Regions from separate parts of the Homo sapiens genome. Here region 2 is linked to region 1. A link means that fine-mapping ties the variant in region 1 to the expression of a gene that starts in the linked region. Tissue or cell type: whole blood. Region 1 holds a variant in brackets; the other region holds the start of a gene. All regions are shown on one strand. Distances are from middle to middle.

Region 1 (2,606 bases):
AATCTCCCTCCTCCCTCCCCTGTTTGTACCCTTCACCCCAGGCCCCAATACCCAGAATCTGTTTATCATTCCTTAGCTTTGCTTTTTAATATTATCACATATGTATTACCCCTAAACGATATTTAGTTTCATTATTCATGTTGTAAACTTTAAATCAACTACATCAAACAGCGCATATGCTTCTGAGACTGGGGTTGTGGCTCCGTGTTACGCATGTGAAACATATCGACGTTGATGCACGTGGCTGTTGCTCATTAATTTTATTGCCTGAGTATACTGTAATTTGTTTATTCTTCTGTCATGAGGGTTAGTTCCACGTTTTAAAATTGTTTATGTATCGGTCGGGCATGATGGCTCACGCCTGTAATCCCAGCACTTTGGGAGGCCGAGGTGGGAGGATCACTTGAGGCCAGGAGTTCAAGATCAGCCTGGCCAACATGGCGAAAACCTGTATCTACTAAAAATACAAAAATTAGCTGGGCGTGATGGCGGGCACCTGTAATCTCAGCTACTTGGGAGGCTGAGGCACGAGAATTGCTTGAACTGAGGAGGCGGAGGTTGCAGTGATCCGAGATTACGCCACTGCACTCCAGCCTGGGCAACAGAGCGAGACTCCATCTCAAAAAAAAATTGTTTATGTATTATGATTTTTGCTAGGAGCCCTCTTGTACACATTCCCTTGTACACTCTTGTACACATACACAGAAGTTTCTCTACAGGATATATACCTACAAATATGTTTGTCGAGTTTTGGGGAAATATGCTTTTTAAATATTTTTTCTTGTCAACAAATACCCGTTTGCAGTTTGATCTTGTAATGGTAGAGCCAGGATGTTAAGCCCAAGTGGTTGGGCTTTCCCTCATTGTCCACAGCTGTCTCATATCCACATTGGGGCATCCCCCAGCGCGGTCAGGGCAAAGGCAGCAGAGGGCGGGGGTCTGTCTGAGGGTAGTGCTGGTCCCTGGGTACAGAATGTCCCTGAGCAGCCCCCACAGGCAGCTGCCTCTCCTCCTTCAGTAGGTCCCTGGAGATACCCTGGCTGCCCGGCTCAGCAGTCTCAACCCCCAGGCCCCACCCACGCAGCAGGGACTGAAATAACTCAAGTGTGTGTTTTCTACCCAAGGTTGTCTTCAACCACCTTACTCCTCCACCGCCCGATGAACACCTGGATGAAGGTAAGAAGGGTGGTTTGGGAAGCTGAGGCTCCACAGCCCTCTCCCCTAGGTGGCAGCTTTGTGGAGTTGGAAAAAGGTTGAGTCAGGAGCAGCTTGAGGGCTGGAGAAGAGAAAACGGGGAAGCTGAGAGAGGCCCCGGCTCTGTGCCTCTTGGGG[C/G]GTCTCTTCAGGAACCAAGAACAAGTTTCTTCAGTATGCCTGAGCCTGGGTGGGACTTTTAAAACATGAAAGACTTTACAAACTGTAAACAAGAACAAAAACAAGAGTCCCAGGGAAGACACACAGCATCATCAAACCCAAGTTTTAAAATATGCTAACTCTCAAACGCAAAGGGCTGGGCCAGTGGCTCCAGGCCCTTGCCTCCAGCCCCTGTCCGCTCTATGTGGAGGGCACCTTCTTGTTTCCCGCTCCCAGTCACTTCGAGAGTCCCGCTGCTGACCACCTAACCACCCACGCCCCTACCTGGTCCCCAGACTCCACTTGGTTTTTTTTGAGACAGAGTCTCGCTCTTGTCACCCAGGCTGCAGTGCAGTGACCCAACCTCAGCTCACTGCAACCTCCACCTCCCGGGTTCAAGAGATTCTCCTGCCTCAGCCTCCCAAGTAGCTGGGATTACAGGTGCACACAACCACACCGGGCTAATTTTTATGTTTTTACTAGTGAGGGGGTTTCACCATGTTGGCCAGATTGGTCTTAAACTCCTGACCTCAGGTGATCTGCCCGCCTCAGCCTCTCAAAGTGCTGGGATTACAGGCGTGAGCCACTGTGCGTGGCCCCTAGACTCCACTTCTGCTCTGGTGGGCTGGCCTGCTGGGTACTGTAGGGAATGAGCTCAGCCTTTCTGGGCCAGAGGCTCCACCCCTGGGGACTCCCAAGAGGGTGGCCTCCTTCAAAGTGACTTCCCGCAGCCTCCTCATCATCCATGTCCACACAGCATGGGGAAGGGATGCCTCGGCCAGCCGGGCCCCACCCATTAACCTGCTCATATGATGTGTACTGGGCATTCAGCACACAGAGCCCAGCTCTGTCCCAGGAATGGCGAAGGGGTGACAACAGGTAGATGCGACCCCTTCCCTGGAAAAGCTCAGAATCTGTCACACTTGTGAGCAGAACCTGAATCTTAAAACTTCAGGGAACCACTGTCACCCATTCTGACCCTCGCTTTCCTGCTGAGAAGAGGTGACCAGCCCGAGGTCACAACACTCAGCTCAGTGACAGAGCGGAGCCACCCCACCCGGGGAAGCTAAGTGCTCTCCAGGTGACCTTCATCAGGTGGGTCCTGTGGCTCCCAGAGCTGTGCAGAGAGCCTGCGTCACAGCAGGGCTCACTTGAAGATGGTGCTCCAAGCTCCTGAGCCCTCTTCCTGCCTTCCATCCAGGGCCCGCCAGCAAGGTGGGGGGCCCGGCAGGGTCACTGGCAGCCATAGACAGTGT
Region 2 (2,500 bases), 52 kb before region 1:
TTCTCACAAAACCCCTTGGGGAAGTGAAACAGATTATTTCCATAGTGTCTTAAAACCCCAGAACTCTGCGTTGCTGCGTCTATTGACATGAACACCTGTCAAACCTGCAACTCATAGCTCAGTATTGTCTCAGTCCAATCCAAGGAAATGAACTCCTTGAGAAAGCTGACATTCTGGACCATGGGGTAGAAGCTACCCTGTCTGCCTCCCACACCCACTCTCAAGGATCCAAGACTATGAAGGGAGAAGAGAGAGCCCACCGAGTGACTTCCTCTTATAAGCCAATATCAAGACACTAGTGGAAAGGAACCAGCTGACCAGTGGCTCACTGTGTCTGGCTGGACCAGCAAGACTCTGACGTCATCACAGAAGCCTTCTTGGTCCCATTGGTCCTTTGACTGCTGTGTACAGGATGCCACCCACCACTCCAGACACCACTCACCACTCTAGATGTTGGGATCCTTCTCCCGTTACCTCCATTATTCTTGTTCTCTACTCCTCTGAGTTTTCATAGCCAAGCAAATTTCCACCATTGAAGAGGCTCTGAGATCCAAGTCAACTAACTACTGGCTAGGGTACTGTAAAACACATGGGAAATTAGCTTTTACCAAACACCAATTCTATGCCCACCATTCATACCCATTCTACCATTTAATGCTGATAGTATCCTGTGAGCTAGCTATTATTAGCATCATTTAAAGACAAAGCAAAACCAGTGAGGCTGAAAGAACGGCTGCCCTGGTGCACACAGATGGCACATGGCAGAGCCCAAGCCCTCTCCATGAGATCTGCAGCGTTTGTCCACACGGCAGGGCAAATTACCTTGTAGAGTCAGCATGGAGGTTTGCTAACTCTGCCGGACTTGGTGCAGAAAAAATACCAGCCGTGCTGTTAAACCAAAACCCCAGGAGAAAACTTTCTGGTGACAGAAGGGCATTGTGACCCACGTTGCCCAGGGCCAGGGACAGGGCAGCTGCTCATGGTCCTTCCTCACGAGTTTTCCTGGAGCAGAGGGATACCCCCAAACCCAGGGAGCCCACAGGAGCTTCAGAAGGGCTCGGCTGGAGGGCGGGGCCCCTGTTGCACTTGCTCACTGGGGACTGGGGAGGCTCTGATCGCAGACCGGGGGTGCTGCCACCTCTGTCTGCTGCCGGCAGAAAGCCACAAGCCATGAAAACTGATTGAGATGAGAAGAATTCATCTGGGACTGGCTTTTGCTTTAGGATGGTGTTGGAAGTTGCTCGTTGTCGCTAGGAGCCTGCTCCACTGTAAGGGTGTCAGGATCTGAAGAGCTATGGTGAAACACCACTGAAGCATTGCCAAGGTGAGGCCCTGCGTCTTCCGGGTTCTTTATCGTCTTCCTTTAAATTGTGCAAATGGTGCTGTAAGGCCTGTAGTGGGGCAAGCAAGCAAGGACATTGCTGTGGGTGCCACAGACGGAGGAAGAGGCATGAATGGATCGCTGCCTCAGCTATGAATAGATTGCTCCATGGTTTGTGCATTTCCAGTTTTGAGAATTTTTAATTTATAAAAGGTCATCCATCCAGGGTAGATTCTGCTTTTTGGAAAAGGCAGTGAATGTGCCACAGAGGAGAGAAGGGACGTGGGATGTAGAGAGGGGGTTGAGCGGGCACACACAGGCCACTGCTGCGCTCCCGGCGAGTCACTCGGCCTCTTGATAGGAGGTGATATTGACTGTGCAGAGCTGACAGAGGTTAGTGGTCACAGGCGGGGAGCATCTGGCTCAAGGCAAATGACTGTTGCTTTCGTTTTATTTGTTTGTTTCTGAATGAAGTTGTTCCATTTTTCAGGCATTCAGGAATGGGGTAACTGAATAGATGTAATGATGATCTTCTTGTTTAAGAGATCTATTTCACCAGGAAACACCAACTGTGAAAAGGAAAGCATAGTTGATCACATATTTTGAAAGGATTTGTGTAAATTGTAAGGTTTTGACAACGTTTCCATTTATCTGGTAATGCGGGTGGATGAAGTTCACCCTCATCCACCCACATTACCAAGGAACTAAGGAATTGTGCGTTTGCAGTAACAGAAGAAATTGCTGTGATATGTGCATATCCTCCTCCCTCGGGAGAGTGGGACTTAATTCCCCTCACCTTGAGTGAGGTTTGGACTAAGAGTATGGAAAGGGAGAAATAGTAGCTCTGTAGAGGAGAAACCTGCAGATGCCAGCTTCACCAAGGGACCAAGCTTAGCATCACCGGGAATAAGCTGGGCTGCTATTGTGAACTGCCACGACAGTGCGGTTCTTCCCACCAACTCATAACCCCAGTCAAATCATGAGAAAACATCAGACAAATCCAAACTGGGGAAGATTCCACAACATATTTCACCTTCAAAAATGTCAAGGTCATGAAAAACAAAGAAAGACAGGCAAAGCGTCACAGATCAGAGGAGACATGATGGTCAGGACACCCAAACCCAGAATTCGCATCCTGTATTGGATCCTAAAGCAACACCGCAAAGGTCATTAGTGGAA

The links. PIP is the estimated chance that this variant, and not a neighbour inherited with it, causes the effect.
Region 2: BLK starts here. The variant in region 1 is fine-mapped to the expression of BLK in whole blood (TOPMed, PIP above 0.99).

The regions. Positions count from the first base shown.
Region 1 is chr8:11,544,928-11,547,533 of GRCh38, forward strand. It overlaps BLK (BLK proto-oncogene, Src family tyrosine kinase), which reads left to right. Exons shown (of 13, transcript NM_001715.3): 3 at 1,125-1,176. Among named protein-coding and RNA genes, the nearest start is that of BLK-AS1, 12 kb to the right of the region's middle. RefSeq lists enhancers at 1,201-1,360, 1,731-1,780 and a silencer at 1,561-1,610. The variant C/G (reference allele first, on the strand shown) is at 1,333.
Region 2 is chr8:11,493,268-11,495,767 of GRCh38, forward strand. BLK (BLK proto-oncogene, Src family tyrosine kinase) reads left to right here and starts at 1,120. Exons shown (of 13, transcript NM_001715.3): 1 at 1,120-1,324. RefSeq lists a cis regulatory region at 1-1,433 and enhancers at 1,053-2,252, 1,142-1,331, 1,342-1,431.